Homo sapiens: one gene and its partners. The protein of the gene in region 1 purifies or fractionates together with the protein of each later gene. This does not show direct contact. Each region holds a gene or a part of one and is shown in the gene's direction. Other genes may lie near its edges.

What was found.
Region 2: the proteins of ZFC3H1 (region 1) and PPP2R3A purify together in Homo sapiens (affinity purification with mass spectrometry; 2 studies listed by BioGRID and IntAct, with this or other methods). This does not show direct contact.
Region 3: the proteins of ZFC3H1 (region 1) and TBC1D1 purify together in Homo sapiens (affinity purification with mass spectrometry; 2 studies listed by BioGRID and IntAct, with this or other methods). This does not show direct contact.
Region 4: the proteins of ZFC3H1 (region 1) and SMYD2 purify together in Homo sapiens (affinity purification with mass spectrometry; 2 studies listed by BioGRID and IntAct, with this or other methods). This does not show direct contact.

What each region holds. Positions count from the first base shown.
Region 1 is NC_000012.12:71,625,627-71,632,940, reverse strand, and holds part of ZFC3H1 (zinc finger C3H1 domain-containing protein), read left to right. Parts: coding exon 1-55; intron 56-426; coding exon 427-969; intron 970-1,053; coding exon 1,054-1,163; intron 1,164-1,986; coding exon 1,987-2,118; intron 2,119-2,219; coding exon 2,220-2,341; intron 2,342-3,230; coding exon 3,231-3,332; intron 3,333-3,903; coding exon 3,904-4,023; intron 4,024-5,006; coding exon 5,007-5,190; intron 5,191-6,494; coding exon 6,495-6,681; intron 6,682-7,314. UniProt on the Homo sapiens protein: Subunit of the trimeric poly(A) tail exosome targeting (PAXT) complex, a complex that directs a subset of long and polyadenylated poly(A) RNAs for exosomal degradation. The RNA exosome is fundamental for the degradation of RNA in eukaryotic nuclei.
Region 2 is NC_000003.12:135,960,664-135,968,885, forward strand, and holds the start of PPP2R3A (serine/threonine-protein phosphatase 2A regulatory subunit B'' subunit alpha), read left to right. Parts: upstream 1-5,064; 5' UTR 5,065-5,186; intron 5,187-5,334; exon of another isoform or gene 5,335-5,965; intron 5,966-8,222. UniProt on the Homo sapiens protein: The B regulatory subunit might modulate substrate selectivity and catalytic activity, and might also direct the localization of the catalytic enzyme to a particular subcellular compartment.
Region 3 is NC_000004.12:38,012,826-38,020,139, forward strand, and holds part of TBC1D1 (TBC1 domain family member 1), read left to right. Parts: intron 1-1,683; coding exon 1,684-2,148; intron 2,149-4,568; coding exon of another isoform or gene 4,569-4,628; intron 4,629-5,528; coding exon 5,529-5,618; intron 5,619-7,314. UniProt on the Homo sapiens protein: May act as a GTPase-activating protein for Rab family protein(s). May play a role in the cell cycle and differentiation of various tissues.
Region 4 is NC_000001.11:214,284,082-214,291,395, forward strand, and holds part of SMYD2 (N-lysine methyltransferase SMYD2), read left to right. Parts: intron 1-7,314. UniProt on the Homo sapiens protein: Protein-lysine N-methyltransferase that methylates both histones and non-histone proteins, including p53/TP53 and RB1. Specifically trimethylates histone H3 'Lys-4' (H3K4me3) in vivo. The activity requires interaction with HSP90alpha.

The sequences.
Region 1 (7,314 bases):
GGCAGTGGCCAGTAAAGAAATAGGAAAACGTAAACTGGAACAAGATCGCTTTGGGGTGAGGGTTTTATAGAAATATTTTACTTTTGGAAAGCAGAAAGTTTTTATGATAGTTTTAAGGGTAAGATGTATATATAAAGTAACTCTTTGCTGTAAATTCCAAGAGATTAAGATTAAAGCTTTGTTTTTAAATGACATCCACATTTTTGGATGTCTACTTTATTATTTTGTCTTGACTTTGTTTTTGTCATAAGTCATAGATTAACTAGCAAAACTTTTGGCTACTTATGTTAAACTCTGTTTTATTCTCCATATTGATTTAGTTTTATAATGTTGGCATTGTATGGTGGGGATAGCACAATTATCTTACCAAAAATTGTTTATAAAATCACAGTGATGTAAAATACGTGTATCATTTTTCTCCCTTAGCCAAACAAAATGATGAGACTGGACAGTTCTCCAGTATCAAGTCCAAGAAAGCATTCAGCAGAACTAATTGCTATGGAGAAAAGACGGTTACAAAAGCTAGAATATGAATATGCCCTGAAAATTCAAAAATTAAAAGAAGCCCGTGCCCTTAAAGCAAAGGAACAACAAAATATCTCTCCAGTTGTGGAAGAGGAACCCGAATTTTCTTTACCTCAACCCTCACTTCATGATCTGACACAAGATAAATTAACCCTGGACACTGAAGAAAATGATGTTGATGATGAAATTTTGTCTGGTTCAAGCAGAGAGCGAAGAAGATCTTTTTTAGAATCCAATTATTTTACTAAACCTAACCTTAAGCACACTGATACTGCTAACAAAGAATGCATAAACAAACTTAATAAAAATACTGTAGAAAAACCAGAACTTTTTCTAGGGTTAAAAATTGGTGAATTGCAAAAATTGTATTCAAAAGCTGACAGCCTAAAACAGCTGATTTTAAAAACCACCACAGGCATTACAGAGAAGGTTTTGCATGGTCAGGTAACTGAACATTTCATATTTTCTTTAAAATCTGGAATTCACCCAGCCTTATTTGCCTTACAGAATTATTATTTTCTTTTGCAGGAGATTTCTGTAGATGTGGATTTTGTCACAGCACAAAGTAAAACAATGGAAGTGAAGCCATGTCCTTTTAGACCCTACCATAGTCCTCTTCTAGTTTTTAAGTCCTACAGGTATAAAAGAAAGATTCAATAAGCTTGAATTTCAGGATTTCTGTTTGGTTTTTAATATTTTATCTTGAATATTTGATGATAATGAAAAAGCAATTGAATCATTGCTATTGATAACCAGACTTACCCTTTTAAGGAACATAAAAATTAAGTGTCCTGCCGTTGGGCTCAAACCACACTCTTGGATTTATCAGTTCGTATCAAATTCCAGTTTCTGGCTATTGGTAGAAGTGTGGAGAATTTTGGATTTCTGTTTGTTAGGAATTTTAGGAAAAATAATTGGAATCTTAGAGGTTTTTTTTAATTTTTGATTTTTAATTTTACTGTTATTCAGTCTAAGAAGTGCATTGGCCAGCCTTCATAAAATTTATTTAGACATTTTCATATGATTAACTTTGTGGGTCCCCCATTTAGACTTTTAAAAGTTGTGAGAATGTTAAAGGGTTGCATGTTTTTATCTTAAAATTGTAAAGCACCTTCCAGGTAATATAGACTTTTTCCAGATTTTCTTGTCTTGGCTGGTAATGTGTGTAAGAAATACCGGTATTATATAGTATTTTATTATGTGGTGAGAAACTACTTTTAGAATACAAGGTTTTTTTTCTGTTTAAACTATTTTATGTTCTTGGTATAAAAGCAACTTGTTTCTATCCCTTGATATTCTAGGTCTTTTCTCGAATTAATTTTGGCATTAATTTAATTAGATAAATAGCTCATAAATAGTAAGCATGGAAATTTTAACTTGAGAAAGAAAAACTAAAGTTTTCTTAGTTTTCTGAGGAATGTTTGTTGGGCATAATATACCTGTTCACTCTCTTCACCTTAGATTTAGTCCATATTATCGAACCAAGGAAAAACTTCCCCTGAGCTCAGTATCATACAGTAATATGATTGAACCGGATCAGTGTTTCTGCCGTTTTGATTTAACAGGAACATGTAATGATGATGATTGTCAATGGTGAGTAGTTTTTGTGAACATTTTGTAATTTGAAAAATGGTCTTGTTTGCTTAACTTTGATATGTACATGATTATCTTTTCTGTGTTTTTTTTTATCTTAGGCAGCATATACAAGACTATACACTTAGCCGAAAACAGTTATTCCAGGACATTCTGTCATATAATCTGTCTTTGATTGGTTGTGCAGAGACAAGTACTAATGAAGAAATTACTGCTTCAGCAGGTTTTTAAAGACTTCCTATTCTCTCCCAAATGAAAATTGAATTTAGGCAACTTAAAAATTCTATATTAGTTGTTGACATTGTAAAATACTTACTATAATTCAGTGTATTTACCCATAATACTTTATCTAGATTTGCTGTATCCAGTATAATTACGGTAAAAATTTACTTCCTCTGTTACACTAGCCACATTTCAAGTACCCAATGGCCACATGTGGCAAGTGCATGCCAGTAGGACAGCACAGATTTAAGACATTTCCAACATTTCAGAAAGTTCTTTGGACAGAGCTCATTTAAATATTTAGTTCCATTTATTTAAAAGAAAATATTAAGCTATTTGTATAGAAACTTTACTATTGATTTTAACATAGGAGCCTATTTTTACTTATTGTTTTCAAAAAATAGAGGAAGGCTGGAAATTACGATGGCTGTTGTTTCCAATTCTATAATGAAATAAGACTTGATACACTTGTGAGCAAATATTATTAAGCTTTTTCTCAGATTTGGTGCCAAGTAATAAACCTCAAGCTACAAATCTTTTGGAAGTAAAGAAAATAATAATTACTAAATTTGGTGTTATCACAGCCCAGAGTGATTGTAATGTCACTGAATCTATTTTATCGCTCCCAATTTGGGACTTTAACTTAATTACTTAGTTCATTTTAGGAACTACTTTTTTTTTTTTTTAATCCCAAATGGGGTATATGATGTGGTAGGATTTGCCATAGTAGTTAAGATAATACAGGCTTTGCCCTTTCAAATGCCATAGGTGTTATTGACTAGTACCATATAATCGCCTTTAATTCTTAAACTAGTTCACGTCATACATTTTAATTATCCTAGTCTCTGTAATTGATATTTATCATGAAGATTGCATTGCTCTTATTTCAGAAAAATATGTTGAGAAACTTTTTGGAGTAAACAAAGATCGAATGTCAATGGACCAGATGGCTGTTCTCCTTGTTAGCAATATCAATGAAAGTAAAGGTCATAGTAAGTACATATATAAGTGTGTGTGTGTGTGTGTGTGTGTGTGTGTGTGTGTACTGTATCTCTTTCTGAAAAGGACTTTTTAGTTTCTGTATGACAGAAATTTTGTTGGTATTATGTTCTTAATGTAATACATATCATTCCAGGCTGGGTGCGCTGGCTCACGCCTGTAATCCCAGCACTTTGGGAGGCTGAGGTGGGCTGATCACTTGAGGTTAGGAGTTCGAGACCAGCCTGGCCAACATGGTGAAACCCCGTCTCTACTAAAAATAGAAAAATTAGCCGGGTGGTGGTGGCGTGTGCCTGCAGCCTCAGCTACTTGGGAGGCTGAGGCAGGAAAATCACTTGAACCCGAGAGGCGGAGGTTGCAGTGAGCTGAGATCGCGCCACTGCACTCACTGCACTCCAGCCTGGGTGACAGAGTGAGACTTCCATCTCAAAAAAAAAAAAAAAATACGTATCATTTCTAAGATGGAGTGAATGTAGTTCTTCTCAAATATTATTTGAGTATCCTTCAAAATGTTAAAAAAAAAACTAGTTATATCAATTAACAATCTTCTCCTATCTACTTTAGCTCCTCCATTTACAACCTACAAAGATAAAAGAAAGTGGAAGCCAAAGTTTTGGAGAAAACCTATTTCAGATAATAGCTTCAGTAGTGATGAGGAACAGTCTACAGGACCAATTAAGTATGGTAAGAAGTTATGTAATTTAAGATCCAGAATTATTAAATTGTGGTGTTCCATCTTTATTTAACACTTTGCTAATCCTTTGGTGTATCAGCCTGCCTGGTTAAAAAAAAATTTTTTTTAAAAACGATGCCATTGGGTTTTTAGACAATACAGTTAATTCACTGTGCAGGATTGCCTCTGAAATTGCGGGATATTTGTGTTCATGGCTCCTCTCCAGTAAATGCAAGGAGCACTGCTTAGTTAATAATTATGACTGCTTCAGATATTTCCAAACATACATTAGTTGGTGGGGAAGGTAGCTCCCGTTTGAGAACCACTGCCTAGCCTGTGTCCTCCTTAAGGGCAGGTGTTCTATTTTACTTCATCTTTGAATATGTTTTCTGACATGCAGAAGGCTCAAAAGATGAGAATGAACAAATGATGAATGAACTAATGAACAAAATAATGTATGAATGAGTGCCTGTATGTTAGGCACATTTTACTTTCTAATTTCAAGTTTGCATTATTTGTGAATTAGCAAGTATCCAAGAGATGTATGCTATTATGTACTTATTTACACTAACGTAACACTGTTTTTCTAGTTTAGATATAGTAGAATAATCTTTATAAATTATGACTTTTAATTTCTTAATTATAATTTGCAGTTTAACAAATGTGAATTCATTTGATAATAATGAAAAAGCAGTTGAATCATAGTTACTGTTAAGTGGACTGAAAAGGTAATGTCACTTAGCCTTAAAATAGCAGAGTTCTAATTACTCCTTTTGTTCTGGTGTAATTTTTAGTAGCACCTCTTTCCACTCAGAAGGGTCCTGGTTTGGGTGATAAATTATGTCATAGCTCTACCTTAAAGCTGTGAGCTAGTACATGTCATTAGAATCTTTAGGTTTTTAAGTTACTTTAAAGATGAGACCAATTGTTTTCTTTTTCTTGCATCTGTGGACTAAAGAAAATGTGAAGCTAATAATACTTTTTTTTTAAATAGCTTTCCAGCCAGAGAACCAAATAAATGTTCCAGCTCTGGATACAGTTGTCACTCCAGATGATGTCAGATACTTTACAAATGAGACTGATGACATCGCTAATTTAGAAGCAAGTGTGCTTGAAAATCCTTCTCATGTACAACTTTGGCTCAAGCTTGCGTACAAGTACTTGAATCAAAATGAGGGGTAGGTCAACTTCAAATCTTTGTGTAAACAGTTGCACATTTATATTTTTATGTTTGAGGTTTTTTTACCTATGGTAATCAGTCAGGTTTCTTTCCTAGTATCAATGGAGTCTTTGTTTTTTGACAAAGCCAAAAGCATTTTATTGTTTAAAAGCTATTAGACAAGTTTAAGATTAGATCTTGAGTTTGTGTGCATGGCTCAGTGTATGGGTAATAAATTATACTAAAGTTTTTTACTCCAGTAGGCTCTTATTTCAAAGTAGGATTAGTTAAAACAGTAAATTCTGACTAGTGGAATGGTTGATTGTTTTTTAAAAAAATCATAGTAGTCATAGTTTGTTAATAAAATTATGATAAAATAATGGTGGAACAGGTTAAATTTTGTTAATTTGTAATGGATATTTAAAGCTTATCTGAGAACTTCCAAATTATGGTGAATTTTCTTTCTGTCTCTGTCATATTAAATTATATGTATTTAAATAAGGTAAATGGTAATAACTTATACAACCAATAGTTTGTATTGCAAATGGCATCTTCTAACTTCTTGGTAGTAGAAATAAGCCAAGAATAATCTTTTCATAATTATAACTTTATAGTTACAATAATTCAAGGGTTTTTTTTTTTTACACGTTTCTTTGAAATATTTGACTATCTTAAAGCTTTTAAATAAGGCAGTGCTGCAGAGTGCTAATAAACCCACACATGCCTGGATGTGTTGCTTATTTAACTTTCCTGTGTGTCATTTCCATGTTAATGGGATAAGTTACAGTGTTTTCTTTTCTGACTCATTTACTGAGTGAAGGCCAAAAGAACCATACATTATTTTATGAATAGGATCATGAGAAAGAATTATCTTCTCCAAGAGATAGCAAGCCCTTGACCGTTGAAAAGAACTATTATACTGAAAGCTTTGATATTTTGTACTTGCAGTAGCTGGCCTTGAGAGAGAGTTGTTTAACTTTTCGCATTCCCAAATGGTGTAAATCATAAAAGGTATTGCTGAATATGGACATAAAGCACATTTGAAGTTGATAATCTTAGTGGTTTTATAACACTGTACTTTTATCTGTGGTAAATGCTTACTGAACATTCACTTAAAAAAATTGTTGGGTCTGTGGAAAATCAGAAACTTTTAGGCATGTGATTTAAAATCTGAAATCTAGTACCCCTTTTCATAAGTGATCCTGACTTCTTGGTAAATTCTAGTAGAAAATGGAATTTTAAAATTGACTCATTGGATTAGCCCTATTTAAATTTTCAAGCAGGTTCTAAAAAGCACTTCCACCTTTTCTTTTATATATACAGGGAGTGCTCAGAATCCTTGGATTCTGCTTTAAATGTTCTGGCGCGAGCATTGGAAAATAACAAAGACAATCCAGAAATTTGGTGCCATTACCTCAGATTGTTCTCAAAAAGAGGAACCAAGGACGAGGTGCAGGAAATGTGTGAAACAGCTGTTGAATATGCTCCAGATTATCAAAGCTTTTGGACTGTGAGTAGAAAAGATAACGTACGTGTGTGTGTGTGTGTGTGTGTGTGTGTATAATTATTTGGATCATCTTAAAAATTGATAAGTAGCTTAATAGAGCATATGCTTTATCTGAATATAGACATAATAACCTTACTTTCAGTTTCTAGTAACCACAAAGCCACTTCTGGATCAGAATTTAGACTAAGCAAGAAGAAAATATTTAGTGAAGAGGTGATTTTTTTGTTGTTGTTAACTTTATTGGTAAAGAAAAAATGTAAAATTGTTAAAAATTTCACACTTACCTATTTTTACACAGTTTTAGTTTGGGCAAAGTTAAGTGTAGCTTTTGCAAAACACCTGAAAAAATTGTTTCTTTTAAATTTATCTTAAATTGCCTCTATAAAATTATAATGACTGCCAGGAAACATTTTTGTCTTTTTATTATTTGTTTCCATTGCTTATAGAAATAATCCCAATCTGTAATTCACACTAATATCTAAAATTGCCAAGCTAAAAACATTTGATTGAGAAAAAATGGCCTCTTCCTCTTTCTCCAAGAGAATGAGATGGTTTTTTTGGCTGTCAGTTTTTGAGGCAGGGTCTCTCTATGTCACCCAGGCTGGAGTGCAGTAGTGCAGTCGTGACTCACTGCAG
Region 2 (8,222 bases), on another chromosome or scaffold:
CTGATTCTTCCCCTGCTTGATCCGTTCTGCTCTTGAGGGTCTCTAATGAAATTTTTAGTACAGCAAGTGTATTTCTCACTTCCAAAACATCTATGGGATTGTTTTAATTACTTCAATATTTTTGTTAAATTTCTCTGATAAATTTCTGAAATGGTTTTCTGTGTTATCTTGGAGATCACTGAGTTTCCTTAAAAGTGCTATTTTGGAGGATTTTTTTCTATTTTTGCTTTTTTATATTTTTTTTATTTTTGACACAGGGTCTCGCTCTGTCACCCAGGCTGGAGTGCAGTGGTGCCAGCATAGTTCACTGCAGCCTCGAACTCCTGGACTCAAGTGATCCTCCCACCCCAGCCTCCTGAGTAGCTGGAACTGGAGATGTGCACCATTATACCCAGCTATTGGTTTTTTAATTTTTTATTTGTGGAGATGGAATCTTGCTATGTTGCCCAGGCTGGTCTCAAACTCCTGGCCTCAAGTGAACCTCTTGCTTCAGCCTCACAATGTGCTGAGATTATAGGCATGAGCCACCATGCCCAGCCAAAATTGCTGTTTTGAACTATTGGTCATAGAGGTCACATATTGCCATCTCATTAAAGTCAGTTACTGGTCCCTTGCTTTGCCCATTTGGGGAGTTTGTGGTTCCCTGTTTGCTATTGTTTCTTGTGATGTATATCCATGTCTTTGCACTAAAGGGTAGTTTATTCCAGTCTTCTCTGTCTGACTTGTTTTGGGTTTTATTGAATATATTTGCTTAAAGATTCTTCACTGCTACATTTCTGCCTCCTTTTCAGCTCTAGGTGGTGTCTTAAGCCCAGGTCCACCTCAGCTCTAGTAAATGGAAGGTATCCTGGGATATCCCAGCAATGTGGGAAGGCTGGCTAGGGGTTTGTGCCCAAAGTATCTGCAGAATGTACCTCCTACATCATGTTGCTGCTGAACAGACACTCTGATTTAATGTCTCCTTTGGCTCAGTTACAGAGCAGTTTCCAGTTCTGGGGATGGTAGTTCTGCCTCTCGATTTGCCTTTGCCCATCCTCCGGGATATTTCTCCCTTAAGGGACTTGCAATGTTTCTGTGGGCTAAGACAGGGACAAGTCTCCTGCCAAGGATCCCAAGATGGTGGGGAGCTGGTTGTCCACCGTGATCTCACTTTTTCCAGTGTATAAACTGATTTAGGAGGAAACTTTTTGAATGCTTGGTGCTGGACAGAATAGGGGGAGGGGCATCCTGAACATGGAAGTCATTCTCTTACCATCTGCTTGGAGCTTTTTCACTTCTTTGTGACCCTGCAAACTGTCTCATCCTCATATTTCAGTTTTGGGATATTATTGATGGTAATCTTGGTGTTGTGTATTTGGGTTTGGTCTTCTTTTTCTGGGGAAAAGGGGGAGCCGGCTTGCTTCTATGCTGCCATTTTGGAACCAGAAGTCTCACATTTAATATGACTATTGATATGGTTGGATGTAAGTCTATCGTCTGCTGTACTGGAAATTGGAAGTCTGTTGCACTTCTTAGATCTGTGAGTATATAGTTTTCATAAATTTTGGAAACTTTTGGCTAGTATTTCTTCAGATACTTTTTGTCTTCACTCCTCTCCTTTGGAGATTCCACATATTAGGCCACTTGTAGTTGCTCTTTAGCTCACTGATGCTCTTTTCATTAACATTTCTCTTTCTGTGTGTTTCATTTTGGATAATTTCTATTGATGTGACTAATCTTTTCTTTGGTAATGTCTAATTTGCCATTAATCCAATCTAATGTATTTTTATTCTAGACATTATAGTCTTCAACTATAGAAATACAATTTGTGTCTTTTTTACATCTTCCCTTTTTAATATGTACTTAACTTTTTTGGCATTTGGAATATAGTTATAGTAATTGTGGTTTTGTTTGTTTGTTTGTTTGTTTTTGTTTTTGTTTGAGATGGAGCCACTCTGTTGCCCAGGCTGGAGTGCAGTGGCACGATCTCGGCTCACCACAACCTCTGCCTCCCGGGTTCAAGCGATTCTTCTGCCTTAGCCTCCCAAGTAGCTGGGATTATAGGCGCCTGCCACCATGGCCGGCTAATTTTTTTGTATTTTTTAGTAGAGACGGGGCTTCACCATGTTGGTCAAGCTGGTCTCAAACTCCTGACCTCGGGTAATCCACCCATATTAGCCCCACAAAGCGCTGGGATTACAGGTTTGAGCCACCATGCCCAGCCATAGTAATTGTTTTAATGTCTTTCTCTGCTAATTCTAACATCTGTGATAGTTCTGGTCTATTTTTGATTTGTTGATTTTTCTATTCATTATGGGTTATACTTTTCTAAATTGATCAAGCCTCTAGTAACTATCCTTTATGGGAAATACAAGGTTAGAGGCACATGTTAAAGAACATCACAGCAATCAGCAAAATGCAGAATGTGGGAAACTCCTTATAACAATCTATTTCTTCAATATAAAAGTACAAGGAAAGAAAAAGGTGTAAGACATTTTAACCAAATGCATTGTGAGGAACTTGTTTGGATCATGACTGGAAGAAGTAAACTACATGAAACATTTATGAGAAAATTGGGAAATTTTGAACACTGTCTAGATGTTAATAAATTATTACTTTAAAAGACAATTTAATGATTTTGTGGTTGTTTTTAAAAATAGACCTTATCATTTAGAGATGCATAGTGAAATATTTATGGATGAAATAATAATGCTCCATGTGATTTGCCTTAAAATAATCCAAGGAGGGAAAGAAAAGGTGAGGGTACAGATGGAACAAATTGGTCATGGGATAATTGTTGAAGCCAAGTAATGGGTGCATAGTAGTTAATTATATTATTCTGTCTCTGTTTTCAATATTTGATATTTTTATACTAAAAAAAATTTCAGATGTTTTCTTGTCTAATAAGACTTGCCCTACTCTCTTCCTATACCTCATAGAATTAATTGTGCTCATGACTGCTCCCCTACCGTCATGTAATTTAAACATTTATTTTCAAATCTTTCTCCCTTACTTGGCCATAAGCTCCTTGAGAACAAAGATTGACAGAGTTTCACTCTGATCACCCAGGCTGGAGTGCAATGGAGAGATCTCGGCTCACTGCAACCTCCACCTCCCGGGTTCAAGTGATTCTCCCGCCTCAGCCTTCTGAGTAGCTGGGATTACAGACGCGTGCCACCACGCCTGGCTAATTTTTGTATTTTTAGTAGAGATGGGTTTTCACCATGTTTACCAGGCTGGTCTCAAACTCCTGGCCTCAGGTGATCCACCCTCCTTGGCCTCCCAAAGTGCTGGGATTTCAAGCGTGAGCCACCACGCCCAGCCCCTGTATCTTCTTTATTTTATATCATTTGTATTCCTACCACCTAGTACAGTCTGAGTACTCAATACATTGTGGTGAATTGGCAACTCTCTAGCCCCAATTCACCATGGTCCTCATGACAGAGAGACTAACTCTATTGTATTGAATCAAATTTCCAGTCACGTATTGTGTCCTTTATACATTCAAGTTATAATGTGTATAAATGCATGGCAAAAGGGCCAAAGGAGCCCTAATGTAAAAACATTGGCAATAAAACTGTTGAGACAAACCAAGAATCCAGGTTGCCAGGGTCAGCAGTTTTAACATTGTTTTATGGTACATTGTGTACTTTTCCTTCTTACTGATATGCATTGCACTGTGACCTTTGCAGAGTCCTATCCTGCCCTGCATTTTTCACAGAGTTGCTCTCAGTCTCAAATAAGATACCATATGCATGTGAAAGGGCTTTTGAAATGGAAAAGCAGTAGAAAGTTGAAAGTAAAATGGTCTCTTTCTCTCTAGGGCATCAAGGCATCTCACAGAGCACACTTTAGCTACTGGGAGGATTGACCTTGGGTGAAATTTCAGTATGTAAAGCTTGTTTGGGGTTATCTTACATAATTTTTTCTTTCCTTGTGCTATACACACACACACACATATATGTGCATATATGTACAATGCACATATATACACACACACATATGGCACCTAGTATATGCTTGGTGCTATGCTAGGTGCTGGGGAGACAGTGAGAACAACCCAGGTGCCCAGGACCTGTCCTCACAGCCCACCTAATCCTTTTAAGTCTTTACATACCTCCCATCCCCCACCCCCATGCTCCTTACTCATGGTATTCAACCCAACTGATTGACTTATTTATTGTTATTTATATGCTTATATATTTATAGATTTATCATTTTATCAAGATTTTTACGAAGATACTCAATTGGAGGTTCCTAATTCTGGAGAAATTTCCATTTTACAAATATATTCTTGGAGAGGGCATGATTATGGACCTGTCACATTTGAGTACTGTGGCAGTTAGAAGGAGGGCAATTTTGGGAGGCCCTTCCAGGCTATGTCCTTCCAGCTATTAATGAGGTTCTGTTTCAGAGCAGACCATATTACACGGTGTTATTAATAAATCTGGCGAGTGGTTATAAGGGTGTGTGTATCGGAATAATCCATTAAGCTGTACATTGGTTTTATATGGCTGTCTATATTTGTGTTTTATTTAACAGTAACAGTTAACAATAACAGTTAAAAATAAGTATCACTTCTTTTAAAATTCACACAACTTCTTGGGCTGAGTGAAATGTGGCGCAGGTGCAGGACTGTGGGAAGACAGGAGCGCCAGGGAATGTCTGGCCAGCAGCGCGCTGCCCTCAAGGGGCCTCCTTGAAGGCCCCTTGAAGAGGGCAACACAACTAATGACGATAACAATAACAACGATGACAATATTGACGATGACAATAACAGTAATAAATCCGAGCAAGAGACTCGAATCTGTCAAACAGCAGCGACCACCACGAATCGCATCCCCGCGGCGCCGCCATACAGGAGACTGCCCTCGCCGAGGCCACAGCGGCTCTCGCGGCGCCCCTGGAGGCCCCCTTCCTGCCTTGGCCAGAGGGGCGGGGCGTAGGCTGGGGGCGGGGCCGGAGAGTGGGCGGGGCCTGGCGCGTGGGCGGGGCTCCGGGCGGGCCGGCCGCCGAGGGTGGGGCCGAGGAGGAGGAGGAGGAGGAGGAGAAGGAGGTAGGGGCCTGCGGGTGGCTGGGCGGGGCGCGCTCGGGCCTCCGCTCTTCACGCGCCGCATTCGTAGCCCGAGAGTCCGCGCCGCGGGGAGGCTTGGAGGCAAGCGCTGCCCGCGAGCTGAGCCGCCGGAGGAGGAGCCGCGGGCAACGAGGTAGGCAAAGGAACACTGGCCGCACGGCCTGGAGCCTTCAGCTCCCTCGTCCCGGCCCGAGGGGGTGGCGAGGCTCGGGGCGGCGCGCGGAGGCCGGGGCGGGCGGGGCCGGGACCTGGGGGCGGGGACCGGCCTGGCCAGAGGGGCCACACGGAGCTGATTGGGCTGTGGAAGTCGGAATTCCAGTCGGTGCGGTGCGGTGCGGTGCGTTGCCTCGGCGCGGCCGGCCGGTCCCGGGACACGGCACCAGGGAGGTGTGGAAATTGCCTGCCCCAGGGGCGCCCGCGGAGGAGGGTAGGCGGGGGCGGCCTGGGCCCTCCCACTTTTCAGGGCTCCTGGGCCAGTTCGCCCGCACAGCCCTCGGGAACTTGTTAACAGGAAAGCCTGGCAGAGAAACAAATGCCAGCGTTTTGGAAGAACTGAGAGTCACGTCGTTAGGCGCTGAGGCTTTCTTTTCCTTCCCCGCCCCCTGCCCAACCTCGGCCCGACTTGGCCAAAGAAGGATGTGTCACCAGCTCCGGGCCGCGGACGGGATTCCCGGCCCGCCAGGAGCCGGGGTACCTGAAACAAAGGTAAACGGAGGCCGGGCGGCCCCTGGTCCTGCACCGCGGCCGCGCTGGAGCGCCTCGGTGGGTCTCTCCCGCGCCGACCTGGCCGCCGCCGCCGCGGAGGGGCGTTCTCCTGGGGGACCTCTCGATGGAAACCAGCTGGCCGGGCTTGGAGTTGATGTTGCATCCGAACTCTGTTGTGCTCCCGTTATTCCCAGTCCTCCCACTCTGGTAAAGCTTAAGGAAATTTTATCCAGTCTTGGTGGTCAGCAAATGTAGGGGAAGACAAATTATTGTTTGTAAATTATAAGGTATTTTCTAATTAGGAAATGGCCTGAAAACATTAAATTCTTAACACGTAAGCAAAAAAAGAGTAATTCCTTCCAACATCTGAGGAAGTATTCCTCCTCAAATCTTCATTTATGTACAAAACATCCCCCACACCTTTGGTGCCAGGCATTTTTCTTTGTTCTTCCTTAGTCTCAGGCCTTAGTTTCTTGTAAACAGAACCCAGCGCCTAGACCCTAAGAATTGCCATACTAGGTCAGAGCATGGGCGTCCAGTTCAGTAGGCAGCCGGCTTGTGTTGTAGTAAAACTGTTGTTTTTTTTTCTTGGTGGTATGTTAAAAATTATCTCAGTTTCTTTCAGTAGTCCATGAAAGCCTTTTAAAAATTTTCTAAGCCACTGCTAATTTACACACACAATTTATTTACATTTATTGCATCCAAATGGCCCTTTTATCACCTCTGGCAGAAGAACTTAATGGCATGAGATACTTGTGGAAAAAAACTTAGATCTTTTATACAATCTAGGAGCTCAGAAATCTAGGAGATTTCTAGGAGAACGGGGAAACAGATCAAAAAGGTTTTTAAAAAACAAAGCTTTGGGAAAGTGTTACTGGGGCCAATCTGGCTGTTGAGTTCAAAAATAGCTTTATGCACTGACAACCTGAACATTGAGCAGTTAAAGATTTATTTGTACTCATAAGTATTTGCATATTTTAAAATGTAGCTTAACATTCTGGAGAGTGAAGGGCCTATCTGACTTTATCTTGGGCTGAATTAATTTGGCCTTAATGTTCAGCTGAAACCAGCTACTCTGAGAGAATGGAAGTTTTGTTTCAGCGAGAAAGGAAAAAAGGAAATGAATAATTTTGGAGTATAGGGTACTTGGGGGCACCTGTTCAAATCATAACTTTGCTTTTAAACTCTTCAGAGACTCCTCCTTGCTCCTGACAAACATAGTCCCCACTGATCTGGCCCCTGTTACCTTTCAAACACACAGCTGAAGCTTCACCTCTGCCCTGAAGCTTTGCTTGACACCCCCCATCCCCCAAAAAGAAAACAGATATTTAAAAATCACCACCCTCAGAAGTGCAATTGACAGCTCTTTTGAGTGTTATCGTCCTCTGAGTCAGAGTTTCTCATTTGTAGTTCTGTTGACATTTTAGGCCAGGTAATTTCTAGTTGTGGAGGGCTATCATGTGCAGCGTAGGATGTTTAGCAGCATTTCTAACCTTTACTGAGGAATAGATACCAGTAGCACTCCACACACACAGTTGTGAACATCAAAAATGCTTACAGACATCGCAAATGTCCCCCAGGAGGACCAAAATCACCCTTAGTTAAGAACCACTGTTGTGAGCAGACTGCTGCCTTAACACTAGTGACGCAGCATTGTCCTCATTTGCTTAGGTGTTTACTATACTAAGCTTGAGGGCGGGAACAGTTATTTATTTAACAGATTTCTGAAGGCCTGTTTTGCCAACTGGACACTAGATTAGGTATGGAAATAGATTAGTAAAAACAACTTTGCATGCCTGGACCTTATAGTCTAAGGAGGGTGACAGATGTATACATGCATAAATATACATTTATCTCATTACGATTGTGTTAATTTCTGGGAGAAGTACAGGCAGCTCTGAGTGCATAAAACAGATGTCCTGATGTAGTTTGGAAACTGGGGAAAGTTTCCATGGGGAAGTGACCTTTGAGGTGGACGGTGAAGGATTAACAGGAGTTACTAGGTGAAGCTCACGGGAACAATATTCCGGGCAGAAGGAACAGATGTGAATACCTTGAGGAAGAAAGGAACAGGGCCGCTTTTGGGAACCCAGAAGCCAGGAACACGGAGAGTGATGACACAAAATGAAGCTAGGAAAATAGGCAAAGGCTGTCCACTAAGCAGTGGTTCTCAGTCCAACACTCTCATCAGAACCACCAGAACTTAAGACCGACGCCTGGGCCCTCCTCCAAGCAAATCAGAGCATTTTTGGTGGGTTCTGCTCCCTCCCCCAGCTACCATTTTCCCTGTCTTCCAAAGGAATAACCACTGATACTAGTTTTGTATATCATTGTAGACATTTTTTGTGGGCATTCAAGGAAATGCATATCTTTCCTCTTACTGTTTTACACAAATGGTAGCATACTGTACACTCTGTTTTCTTAAAAATGTCTTGGGAATCTTTCCACTTCAGTATATAGTTTC
Region 3 (7,314 bases), on another chromosome or scaffold:
TGCTGTCACCCAGGCTGGAGTGCAGTGGCACAATCTCGGCTCACTGCAACCTCCGCCTCCCAGGTTCAAGCAATTCTCCTGCCTCGGCCTCCCAAGTAGCTGGGATTACAGGCACCTGCCACCACGCCCAGCTAATTTTTTGTATTTTTAGTAGAGACGGGGTTTCACTATGTTGGCCAGGCTGGTCTCAACCTCCTGACCTCCTGATCTGCCCTCCTTGGCCTCCCAAAGTGCTGGGATTACAGGCATGAGCCACTGCGCCTGGCTGAAATTTTGGCTTTTAAAATCATTTAGGTCTCATCAGGTATCAATTATTTAAAATGTAAAACTTTCCTAAAGATCTTTTGACTCTTTGTGTGATAAAATACCTTGAAAGAATAGTCATAATCTTTATGACAGAGAGATCTTTAAGGTGTATTTGATATGAAGTCACAAAGAGAAAAATCTTTCGAGTCATTGGTTTTGGGAATTATGTCATGAACACTGAATATAAGGATACTTTTAAAATTTAAAACCACCTCCTTTACTGTATGTGTTGATCTTTGACCTGAATTGGAAGGGGGATTTTTAAAATTTCTCTATAATGTTGTTAAAAAGACATAGGGCCTGTGGGTATTGGGCCTTAAATTGAATTTTCCTTATATAGAAAAATGGAAAAAATTGGTTTAGGTGTTAGGTCATAACAAAAAGTAGGCCCTTTTGAAGATTAAATTTATGCCTGCCTTGGCCTTGTTTAAATCCATGCCTGGCCACAAATATTAGTGTTGTGGCTGTCCATCATCTGAGCAATTGCACAGCTGTTTCATTCACTGCCGTGCGGATTCATCTTTATGTCTATGCTGCTTTGAAGAACCTTCTCAGAGGTTAATGATGAGAGGATGTAGCAGTAGGGACAACACCGTGGCAGATGAGGTCTTTTATTACATTCTTTTAATCATGATTTTCAGCATTAGAAACCAAAAGCTTTATAGTCTCCATGTGAAGAATCCCTGGTGAGCCTGTTTGCTGTGATAATATTAGTCATGGGTTACTCAGTCCTTGATTAAAACCTCCTAGCTTTGTTGACTTGCTAGTCACTATTCACCTGCTAGGAAATATAGGACTGAGTTGTCATGGAAGGAAATAATGGTGCTGGGATTTGAATAAATAATTTATGAGATAATTTCAGAGCCTTTGTCTTCTTCATCCCACCATTTATTAAAGAAGACTTTCCAAAGTATACTGCCATGAGATCTAGAATAATTGAGTCATGTTTTGTGAACCACGTTGGAGACAGACTTCTCTGGGAGGCGACAGCTTCTCCAGAGGAGGCCTTTAGCTTTGGAGTGGGACCAGCCTGGGCTTGAATCCAAGGCCTGCTAGGTTGGGCTGTGTGTGTTCCCGGGCTGGTGGTTTAACCTTGCAGGGTGCTGTGGGCATGTAAATCCTCCAGCGCAGCCCTTGGCAGGTAAGAGGTGCTTCATAAGTGTCGTCCCCCTTCTCTTTTCTGTGGAAGCTGTGTGTTCACCTCCCATGGGAAGACATTCCTAGTCCCCTCCCGTGGGCTCCTCCTCCAGTGGGCTCCTCCTCCAGTGCTCCGCAGTGGAGTAGCCAGCGGGGCGTCCCGAAAGAGCATGGTGCATTCATTCCGTGAGTGCCAGCCACACTGCATGTTCCAAATAACACGCCTCTCTCTCTCCTCAGGTGCCTGAGATCATCAGCTCCATCCGTCAGGCGGGGAAGATCGCCCGGCAGGAGGAGCTGCACTGCCCGTCCGAGTTCGACGACACGTTTTCCAAGAAGTTCGAGGTGCTCTTCTGCGGCCGCGTGACGGTGGCGCACAAGAAGGCTCCGCCGGCCCTGATCGACGAGTGCATCGAGAAGTTCAATCACGTCAGCGGCAGCCGGGGGTCCGAGAGCCCCCGCCCCAACCCGCCCCATGCCGCGCCCACAGGGAGCCAGGAGCCTGTGCGCAGGCCCATGCGCAAGTCCTTCTCCCAGCCCGGCCTGCGCTCGCTGGCCTTTAGGAAGGAGCTGCAGGATGGGGGCCTCCGAAGCAGCGGCTTCTTCAGCTCCTTCGAGGAGAGCGACATTGAGAACCACCTCATTAGCGGACACAATATTGTGCAGCCCACAGATATCGAGGAAAATCGAACTATGCTCTTCACGGTAAAATATCACCCAGCTCGTGCACAGCCCCAGTCTGCCATACGCTTTCAAGAGAAAATCTGCTTTATGGAGCGAAGATTCTTAGTCAATTGCTTTTGATTTATGTGTGAATCCATATATTTTCATGCTGAACAATTCTATTCTTAGGATAAGCTCCTTCCTTTAGCCATAAGCCTTTACAGTCATCAGGGAGAAACATGCCCATGTGTAATTTTTATCTCACCCGGTAATTATAAAGACACCTTTTCAGTGTGGAAAGAACAGTGAAAACGTGTAAATGAGACCAGCAGAGAGATTTAAAAAATATATATGAATTTCAGATGATATATTTCAACAGAATCTTTTAGTTGGAAAACACCCTCTCTACTATTAATATTTTTATTTATGAAACATTTACCCTTTGCTAATCAGGAAGAGTGGCTTTGTGAGTGACATTATATTTGAAATTTATACCCAAACTGAAATATTAATTTAGCCAATGGCTTGCTTGCTTTTTTTTTTTTTAGAAAAAAAGTGTTAAATTGACAGCCAAATGCTAGAAAAGGACTGAACATGGGGGGCTGTCCCAGGTGGGTGGGGTTCCTGGTTCCATGCTGATCTGGGCTCTTCTGAATGGGTGTGCCCTCCCTGGGAGTCCCCTGGGTCTGAACGGATGAGATGTGGAGCTGTCCCGGCAGCGAGCCGGTCTCTGACAATGGAAGAGCTAGTTTCTTCCTTGGCCTTCTCTTTGGCTTAATGCTGACTGACGTTCTGTAGAGAACAAAATTATCTTAAATATAAAGTCTCCTTCTTGTGTCTAATTCAGGGCACAGGTGAGATGGCCAGGGGGTAAAAAACCAGCTACCTAGGTTAGTGCAGTGTGGATGTGTGCAGGTTTAAAACCAAGGGGGTGCACCCAAGGGTAAATAGGGCTGATGTTTTCATCTTTTGACCATTGATCTAGTGTACCGAAAAGAGTAGTCAGATTTGTGCTTTAATTTGTGATCTGCATCTTTTAAAAAAACTTCCTTGGTGACATTGAGAAAGCTGCTCCCTGCATTTATTTATAAGTACTGACTGTTTGACTGCTGTGCTAACGTCCCTTGCCACATGCTGGAAATGCAGCCGTGAACAAGACAAGTATGTTCTCTGCCCACATGGAATTTAGATTCCAGTAAGGGAGACAGGCAACTGAGTGCACAAATAATTATCTAATTATAATTGTGGTAAATGCCGTGGAGGAGAAGTACAGCATGCCTGAGAGCATTTCTCAGGGTAATCAGGAAAGGCTTCTTTGAGAAAGTGATTTTCACCTAACACAAGGTTTCATTGTGGCCACCTGGGAAGGTCTTCTGGGCTCACAGAGCAGCAGATGAGAAGGCCCTAAAGGCAGGGATGGTGCCTGGTGCCTGGAGAATCCCAGAGGCCTGACTGCCTCCTTTGCTCAGCATTCTTCCCTCGAGTTGTCACGGTCTTACCTCCTCTTGCTTCCTTTAGGTCTCTGCTGAAATGTTGACATGGAGGAATAATCGTATCAGTAAGACCAATAGCAGCCTCACTTCCTGCTTTTTTGCTTTATTTTTCTCCATGGCATTTTTACCATTTGACACAATTACAAATAAACAAGTAAAAGATTTTATGTCCCACATGCCCCCAAGAAGATAGGCTTCAAGAGGGCATGGATTTTCATTTCTCTGTTCACTGCTGTCGTTGGTAGTGCCTAGAGCACAGCTGTTGGGTGAGAAATAATTCCAGATGGCCGCACTGAAAACAAGGAAGGATGGTGCGTAGAGATGGGGCTGGGACTGGAGGCAGCCCCATGAAAGTTGTTTTCATCAGGCACAACTTTATGGGTCTTGGTCAGGGTTTTGTTTTTTATCCTGAAAGGAGTGGGCAGTCACTGCATGCTATAAAACACAGTGTGAAATATCTTTGGCTACAGAGCCAGGATACTTGGGGGAGGGCAAGAGTAGGATGGGGAGGGGAGTGAAGCTGTTGTAGTAGTCCAGGTGAGAGATAGTGGGGTTGTGGTAAGTGCAGTGGGAGTGGAAGGGACAGACATGCAGAAAGTCAAATTAATGGGATGTACAATCCTTTGGATGCCATGGGGAAGGAGAGGGATCTCAGGAGCCCCACCCAACTTTGGATTCTGACTTGCTCTTTACAACCCAGCCATAGCTAAGTAATAATGCCTTGGAGCCTCTCACCTTATGAGATTTTCAAAGGTTATTTTTAAAAATAAGTAAGGACTATCTTCATTATGTAGGTAAAGACAGTGACTTCTAAAGAGACTAAACATACTCCAAATAGATACTTATTCGTTGTTTACAAATAAGGAGGATATTGTGTTGGCTCCTACTCTAGAGAGAGACACAGTCTAGTTTAGAAAGATGTTGCATGTTAAAAATGAATTAGTTTTTCATCATCCTTGGTCTCCACAGAAGGACAAGAGTAAAAGGCTACCTGCCACTCTCTGCTGGCTGAAATACAGTTCAGAAACAGTAAGTGTGCAAAAACAATTCAGAATGCAAAGTCCTTGCCCCAAACAGAATGCACGTTTCTTGGGCCCCCTCATTGAGAGTATAATTCCCCTTGACTTACACCCCAGTTTCCAACAAGCTTGTGTATCTGATTTGTATTTTACATCAAAGCGTAAAGAGTTTAGAGGAGGAGATGGGTCTGGGAGTTAAGAATGGCAGCGTCAGGATGTGACCACTGACTTCTTGGTCCTGAGGAGAAACTAAAGCTGTAGAAACCAACACACACTGAAACCCAAGAAGCTTAGCGCTCCAGAGACGAGGAGTCTAAAAGGCAGCCTTTCACAGCCTGCAGGGGCGTGTGCACACAGAGTAGGTTGGGTATTGCAACACAGCAGTCTCCTATAATGCATGTCTATTAGCATGTCCCAAGGCAGTAAGAGGATTGTAATTGATGCTCATACTCTAACTTGAAAAGGTCCGGTCACTAGTGTATGTGAATGCCTCACATGTAATATGTACTAAACAAATGGTAGATTCTTTTAACAATAATTTAAAAAGACTTGTCAGTAAAAATCATTCAAAAGTATCTTGGAAGCTTTGAAAGAGTAGATTCTGTTTTCTGGAAGGTTCACTTATGCGGAGACCTCAGTTTTTAGGGGGATGTGTGGATCTTGAGGCCTATTGCTAACTTTTGGATATCTGGTTCTTTCATCTCAAGGAAGATGGCTGTCTTATCTAGGTGAAGGCACTAATAGATGTGTCTTATGACCTGAAATCCAGAGGATAAGAGGGGACCTTTGAAATGATTTCTACGATGATAGAGTCAGAATTTTATAGGAGCTTGTCCCTTTTATTCTTTATTTTCATAGGTCATGAAATGAGAAAGTTTGAAAAGCTAGATTTTTTTGTTTGTCTTTTAAGATTGGCCAGTCTGAAGTTTACCTCATCAGTCCTGACACCAAAAAAATAGCATTGGAGAAAAATTTTAAGGAGATATCCTTTTGCTCTCAGGTAAATGGAGATGGGTTTTTTTATTCAATTGCAATGGAATTTTTAAATGAATTTCTATAATATCTATCATGTAACAAATGCTAAAGGTTACAAGGTGTATGTTTTCTAAGTACTGTACTTGATTTGTGTTTCGCTTTTCTTCTTTGCTTTGGTATGTTAAGGTAAATTATGAATATAATTTTGAAATTAAGAAATTTGCTCTTAGCAACAGTAATGGACAAAATAGATCTACTTTTAATTTTCTCAGTTATTGGTAGTAATAATCCACAGTCATGACTTCCAGATGCACATGTGTGTGTCTTTGTGCATATTACACATATATATTTACACATTTCACACAAATATATCTTTTTATTAGATATATTTCTACTTTACAAAAATTTGTAACTTTTTTGGGTACCAATTGTCAGTATTCTCCCTTCAAATATAGATAGTGCTTATCTTTGACATATATATTTACACATTTCACACAAATATATCTTTTTATTAGATCTATTTCTACTTTACAAAAATTTATAACTTTTTTAGGTACCAATTGTCAGTATTCTCCCTTCAAATATAGATAGTGCTTATCTCAGAGTACAGTGTCTACTTGAAAACTTTTTTCTTGATAATCTTCCAGGTGTTTCATAGAGGGATTTTGGAAGAATCTATCAATTAAGATTAGCTGTGCCAGTTTTACTCAGGATCTTCCTAACAAATATGAGATCACTTAAGGTTATATTTGCTTTTTTTTTTAAACTCTGGATTTTTCATTTTCATAATTGATAAAATATGAAAATGTCAGTGTTGATTTATAATGTGATCTACTTAAATATTCAAAAGGGACTTTTCTGCAAAATGTGAAAATAAAGAATGTTCTTTACAGATTGAATAGGGAACCATTTACAAAGAAAAAGCTTTGCTAAATCATATTTCCTTAAGTGGTAGCCTTATGCTTAACTTGCTACTGGAGAAGATTAATTGAGATGGCAAAGCATGTTAATGATTGCTCATTTATTGGAAAATATTTGGCCTGAAAGTGAGATTACCCATAGAGTTTTTAATCCTGATTTGCTGCTATTTCTGTTGAAATATGAATGTTAAATGTTTACATTTTTGTGTGATAGCTTTATAATTTCCTAAAGAGTGTAGTTTACAAGTTTATATGATTACCTGAACATTAAGCTATCAGCACTCACATCTCTGCATGATGATGCTTTCAGAATACATTGATGTATTAATATTTATGGCAGACGTTTTATCTGTATTAAGGTGCCTCTGATAGCTGATGATTTTAAAACACATTTACATATTAATATTTATTAAAAATAGCTCTTATGATACCATGGTAGAGCCTTGGCCTAATATGTTTAAAAGCTCCTCTACTCTGTGTGCATGTAATTTTTGACTCTTTCTTTATTCCAGTTCACTTCAGTATTTACCTACTTATTTTAGGAATACAAATATATTTTAAATATTTTTTTAACCTTTGGGTGTGTATGTGCTTAGTTGTGTTTCTTCATGAATCTCTGGTCTGCCTTTGATTTTTTGAGTGGTTTTTATTCTTTAATACCTATGTCTCAAACAAAACAACAAACAAATACTAAAATGAGCACTAAAACTTGAATTTTCAGATCTTATTTTTCTTATTGTTGTGGGAGTAATCAAAGGAACATTCTAGTAAACCAACTTTATTTGAGATGTTTTTAGACTT
Region 4 (7,314 bases), on another chromosome or scaffold:
AGAACATGCGTATCTTGCCTGAACTGCTAGAAGGCAGCTCCTAATAATATTATATAAAGTTTTTCCACTTGGAAGCTGTCCCTATCAGACTTCTCAGATACACTTTATACACACATACACACATAAATGCACACATACACATTTTGGCCATTTATCACCATTTTTTGGTGTGGTTTTTTTTTTTTTTTTTTTTTTTGAGACAGAGTTTCGCTCTTGTTGCCCAGGCTGGAGTGCAGTGGCGTGATCTCAGCTCACCACAACCTCCACCTCCCCGGTTCAAGCAATTCCTCTGCCTCAGCCTCCCGAGTAGCTGGGATTACAGGAATGCGTCACCACACCTGGCTAATTTTGTATTTTTAGTAGAGACAGGGTTTCTCCATGTTGGTCAGGCTGGTCTCAAACTCCCGGCCTCCCAAAGTGCTGGGATTACAGGCATGAGCCACTGCGCCGGGCCAAGTATGTTGTATTTTAAACTAAGTTTTAGACTTTTTTTTTTTTTTGAAACAGTCTCGTCTCACTCTGTTGCCCAGGCTGGAGTGCAGTGGCACGATCTTGGCTCACTGCAACCTCCGCCTCCCGGGTTCAAGTGATTTCCGACTAATTTTTGTATTTTTAGTAGAGACAGGGTTTCATCATGTTGGCCAGGCTGGTCTCGAACTCCTGACCTCAAGTGATCCACCCACCTCAGCCTCTCAAAGTGCTAGGATTACAGGCGTGAGCCACCGTGCCTGGCCTAGACATATTTTAACCCCCAATGTGATTTGTCTCAGAAGGAGAGAAATCTGCTTTAACCCAGTGTTCCATCTAAATATTCATTCTATGTGCCATTCTTCAGGTAGGCAGATCTTTTGATCTTTAGTCTCCCTTTTGATCTTTAGTTCTCTTGGCTCATGGGTTATTTAAGGATGAGATTATTGACATTTCTTTGTTTGTTCTGAGTGTAGGGGGAACCAGGAAAGCCCATTTAGCCTCCTTGGAATAGAGCTGTTAGAACCCAGTTTCAGTGAATTTCGGTCATGTCTGGCTTAGATTAGTTGTTTTAAAAATTAAATTGTTTGCCTGAGCCAAACCCTGTGATTAAGGTGTCCTATTTCAGCAGTTATAAAGGCTTTTTTTCCTCATGTCCCCCAGATTTATTCTCTAGCGTATTCATCTTAGCTTTCCTCTTGTTTTATCAAACCGGCAGAATAATTTTTAGTTGATCTTAATCAGTATTAAGGGCCATGAAATCCTGATGCTGTTTTCCTGAAGTTCTCTGAACTAGCCCTGGTTCTGGCTGCCTGAAGCTGTGCATGAGAAGGGGACCTTGTGCCCAGGACTGCTATGACTCTGGCTCTCCTGAGAATGCTTTGAGAGTTGTTTTGGGGGAGAAATGGCTTCAGATGTATTTAAATCATCATGTTTTCTGAATAAAAAAATTGAATACATGCTCTAATAAAGGGGTTCCCCTTCTTTTTTAGATGTATTTTTATAAAATAGGTGGTAAGACTAAAACATACATACAACAGATTTCCTGTAAAAAGTGCCATTAAAGAATGCAAAATTCAGCTATCTGTATGTTAGGTAAGGAAATGGCTGTTTTCACTTTCCACCTTTCAGTATTTCAAGGTTTCCATGTACATTAATGCATAACTTAATGACAGGGATATGTTCCAAGAACTGCCTTAGTAAAGCAGTTTGGTCCTTGTGCCAGCATGCTAGAGTGTACTTACACAAAGCTACGTGAGAGAGTCTACTACTCACCTAGGCTGTATGGTATAGCCTGTTGCTCTTAGGTTACAAACCTGTACAGCATGTTACTGTACTGAATACTGTAGGCAGTTGTAACACAATGGTAAGTATTTGTGTATCCAAACATATCTAAACATAGAAAAGGCACAGTGAGAATATGGTATCACAGTCTTATGACCACCTTTGTTCACGTGGTCTGTCATTGACTAAAATGTTGTTAGTGCATGACCTTATTTCAGTAGAAACCGCAAAGCAGGGACTTTGTGGCAGGTGGACTGGGTTTGAATTCTGGTTTCATTCTTTCCTGATGGTTTGTCTTTAGGCCAGTTATCACTTAACCTCTCTGAACTCCCAGGTTCCCTTATCTGTAAAATGTGCGTACTAATGCCAGTGCCGTTAATCCCAGGACTTGGTAGGCTGAGGTGGGAGGATCGCTTGAAGCCAAGATTTTGAGACCTGCCTGGGCAACATAGCAAGACCCCATTCGCTACAAAAAAAATTTTATTTAGTTTAGCCAGCTGTGGTAGCCTGGGCCTGTAGTCCTAGCTACACTTGGGTAGGCTGAGGTGGGAAGATCCCTTGAGTCAGGAGGTTGATGCTGCAGGAAGCCATATCACTTACTCCAGCCTGGAAGACAAAGTGAGACCCTGTCTCTTAAAAAAAATAAAAAAGTGTGGACTGGGCATGGTGGCTCACACCTGTAATCCCAACACTCTGGGAGGCTGAGGCAGATGGATCACTCGAGGTCAGGAGTTTGAGACCAGCCTGGCCAACACAGTGAAACCCTGTCTCCTCTGAAGATACAAAAATTAGCCAGGTGTAGTATAGTCCCAACTACTTGGGAGGCTGAGGCAGGAGAATGGCTTGAACCTAGGAACCCAGGAGGCAGAGGTTGCAGTGAGCTGAGATCACGCCACTGCACTCTAGCCTCCATCTCAAAAAAAAAAAAAAAAAAAAGCGTATGAATACCCACCCTACCAACCAAGCTAAGTCAGTACAACCCTAGCACATAGTGAGCCATCAAAATCACTCTGATCTCTCTTCTTTTTTTTTTTTGAGATGGAGTCTCACTCTGTCACCCAGGCTAGAGTGCAATGGCACAATCTCCGCTGTTCAAGTGATTCTCCTGCCTCAGCCTGGTGAGTAGCTGGGATTACAGGCATGCACCACCATGCCTGGCTAATTTTTGTATTTTTAGTAGAAACAGTGTTTCACCATGTTGGCCAGGCTGGTCTTGAACTCCTGACCTCAGGTGATCCACCTGCCTTGGCCTCCCAAAGTGCTGGGATTACAGGTATGAGCCACCACGCCTGGCCTGATCTCATACTTGTTTGATGAACTCTGCTGGCTAAATGTTTCTAACTTAATTAAATTGTGTGATAAAATATTATAATTTTAGGGGCGTTTTTATGGAGTTGTGGGGAGGGGTGAACACTGGGAAGGAAATACTGGAAATTGTTGACCAGTGGAGTCACCATTAAGCTGGCCTATTGGCTGGGCGCGGTGGCTCATGCCTGTAATCCCAGCAGTTTGGGAAGCCGAGGCGGGCGGATTACCTGAGGTCAGGAGTTTGAGACCAGCCTGACCAACATGGTGAAACCTCATCTCTACTAAAAATTCAAAAATTAGCTGGGCATAGTGGCGGGCGCCTGTAATCCCAGCTACTTGGGAGGCTGAGGCAGGAGAATCGCTTGAACCCGGGAGGTGGAGGTTGTGGCGAGTTGAGAGTGCGCCACTGTACTCCAGCCTGGGAGACAGAGTTAGACTATGTCTCAAAAAAAAAAAAAAAAAAAAAAGATGGCCTGTTGACCCATAGCCACAACCAGCAGTTCTCAACCTTGGGTTCCCCAGAATTAATGATGGGGTCTGGGATTAGTTTTCAGTATTTTTCAAAACCTAATGGAAATAATATAATATACCTACACAGGTAAACCTTCTTCAAAAAAGAGCCTTTTCTCACTCCAAAGTCTTAGGCACTTTAATATTCTTTTAATAAGAAAAAACAAATATTTATAGAGAGAAATGGAAGAAAACAGAATTTTCCACATTGCAAGGATATCAGGGTTCCTTCTGCCTTTTACTTTCAGCACAATTGTTTCAACAGCAGCAAGGAGCCATCCTTTAAGACTTCAAATGTGCCAGTAACTCACGTTATTTTTCATATGCGGGGAACATAATTTCTGTTATAGCTTATAGGGGCTCAGTGACCAAGCTGCACGTTTGGAACCGATTTCAGATGAAAGAGACAGAATAACAGCAGGATATCCTGAAGTGAAATTCAAACCCTGGTGAGTTAAAACCACCATCTAACACCTTTCCCTCCCGAAGCAATTGCACAGAATCCTCTCAATCAAAAAAAATTCGAAGAACCTGTATAAAATGGCATTTCTTTAAATCATATTGCTCTTTGCAGCCCATAAAGCATTTCCAGATACATTCTTATTTTGATCCTTCCAAGGATGGCTGGTATACACAGGGCCTTATTCCATTTTACATAGAAAGAAACTGAGTGTTAGAGAAGTTAAGTGGTTTCTCTGAATTTCACACCTTTTTTGTCAAATATTTATTGAGTGCCTCTTAAAGGCCGGACTCCATGACCTTCAAGGATGGAGCCAAATCTCCCTGTTCCTCGTGTGATCTTCCTGTGCCCCCCTTTGGCCTGAACCTACTGTGTGGTTCACCCAGGGACTTCACCCTACATTACTACTGTGTGGTTCCCTGGAGACTGGGGGCTTAATCCGTCTCTGATATCTCCTTGATTGAATAGAATTTATAATTGGCCAACAATTTAACAAACGAATGCATTGTTTAAAGAATTATTTAAAGTTTTAAAAAATGTTTGATTCAGCCATCTTAGATCTATATTTTATGCTGATATGGACTTAAACATGTTGTTTTTATTATAATGCTTTGAAATTTGCATAAGAGCTACACATATTCTTTTATATGTATGAATTATTATGTAATAAAACATAAAAAGAACATGAGGCTTTGGTCCTTTTGTAGGCTTGGAATATTTTTAATATTACGCTAGGACTAAACCAGAGTTAGTCATCTCAGCCTTTATACCTACATATAAAGAGTTTGTTTCTGTGCCGTGTGATAGGGCAGCATCAGCCCATAGTCTTTTTTTTTTTTTTTTCCTTAAGCAAATCCATTCTTCAGGATCTCTCTCTGCAGAAGTTAAATCTCTTGAGTTGTGGAAATGGAATTTATGGTGCAGCTATAGGAGGCAGCCCCTGGTTGGTATTCCTGTAGAACAGGCAAGTTGCACACCACCTGTGAGAAGGTTCTTGTAAAAATATGTTAAATTTCTTTGAGAAGATCCAGGGCTCACTGCTATAGTTTGGCAGGAACCTGGTCTTTGGGAGAACTCAGAATTGGTGAGAATTCAGGACAGCAAAATTGTCTCTTTTAGGATTTGATATAGTGAGAGAATTGCAAAGGAAGTTTCTACTGTATTTGGGTGTTTTAGGCTTACTGCTTTGAACTTAGGTTAATATTCCCTCCTCTTTTCCCTGTCAGTATAAAAATATGAAATAATTACTGTTTTATGCCACTTTATTTCTGTCCTCGAAGGAAGCAATCAATAATTAAAAGCATGCTTTGTCTTCCTGGAGTCATGAATAATTAAATTGACTCCCCCCATCCACACACATCTTTTTTTGGACCTCAGATGTAGTTGAGGTAATCATACTTCTGAGTTCAAGGCATGCTTTTATCTGGTATATGCAAGGCAAATTTGATTTTTCAGAATGTTCCCTCTCATTTCCTGCTCTTCTCACAGACAGCTCCTCTATGGGTTTGGTTACGTATCTTTGAATACATGTGTATGTGTGTCCTGATGATCACTAGGGAACTAGACACACCTAGAACAAGGCACCCTGATTTTACTTGGCAGATTCAGACCTTGAGCTCTCTTCTGATCCTCCTGCTCACTCAGCGTTTTTCTGTGGCTGTGTCAGGGCAGGGGCCCCTGCACTGGCCCCTTCCTCCTGATGAGTGGCCTGTTCTGACACTTGAGGGAGGCAGGGCATTTTGAGGTCTCCTTTGCCTCTCAGGAACTTGCATTGTTAGCCCACCCACATCCCCAACCTTCACTTCTTTGGATTTCTAGGAAATCTGCAGTAGTTTAGGGGTGCAGTCCTTTGGCAGGGAATTAACTGAAGTACCTGCCTTTTCAGGGGTTGAACCCATGACCTTGGCCTCATTAGAGCTCTAACCAGTCACAAAGCACACACCTCACTTTGTGTAACTTCTGCTGACTTGTTCCTGCCACCCTCCGCGGCTTCCTATTCAATTGCAAAGGCGTTCACACCAACACAATAGAACAGAAGGAAATCAGATCTCTTCAAGACTTCTCTGAAGGACAGAAATATGCAATTTAGCAGGAAAATAATACAAAAAAGTCTTGAAGGTTCAGGAAACAACTTATCTTTCTAGTCCGTACATTCGCTGAGAATCCAGCTGTGTCTCTCAGATTCTTTTTCAATCAAAAATTTAAAAATAGCGTGGAACTCCTTGTGTTAATTTATTAACATAAAATCTAGCGACTCTTGTACATGAAGTGGAAGGTTTCGGATGACTAAGTGGAAATATTGTATGTATGTTATTAAAATGGATTGGGTTAGCTTTTATAGAAAAAGTGGATCTGAGAATTCATAAGTGCTTATCTTTGGCAAGTTTATAGTCCCTAGAGATAAAAATGAATGCGTGCTATAATAACAAAGACACTGTTGTGTCTTAGTGAGTGCACTGTGATGCTCAGGGTGTGTTGGTGCCCAGGGGACGCGGAGTCACCATGGAGGAGAGGAGAAACAAGGACAACTCCCTAGAGAAGTGAAATTCACACAGGGCTTGAAGACCTGAATGTATCTTGGGGGAGGGACGTGGTAAGATAATCTGGCTGTCCAAAAAGATACAGGTTTTTATTAGAGCCAAATAAAAAGCTCAAGGATTTTATGTCTTGGCACTTGGAAGGAGTTATGTTGAAATCTGTGTTCTGTTTAATCTGAGTACCAAGAAAGACTCTTCAGGGATGTAGGTACTGGCTCATATTTTTGATGAGATGGGGATTTTTCTTACTCTGGTGATGTTTGGATAGGAAACATTTGCTCATTTGCCACCTGAAAAATCTCTTCTCTGTCAATTCCGTGAATCCATGGTACAGTGACAGTTGCTGTTCACAGTGATAGCCTCATATGCTCTTAAAACCTCACCAATAAGACACATTTAATTATGAGCCAATAGTATACTCCCTAAGGGTAGGAATTCTACTTTTTAACTCAATCAAAAACATTTGTATTTGTGGACACTTAGTGGGTTCTATAGTTCTGGAAAACAACTCCAAAGAAAAGGAACAAAAATCCCTACCACCACGGAGCTTATTTTCCAGCTTTTATTCATCTTTATTTTACCTCCAGTTCCTTGAACTTTGTAAGGCTTCAGCAGATGCTGTATAAAAGGCAGGAAGATTTGTTCTTTTTCTTTCTTCTGGTCATCCAGGTATGTCATGAAGAACATTCTGTTAACCAGAATGTTTAACCATGTTGGGACTCAGAAAATGATACCCCGAAGTTTGGC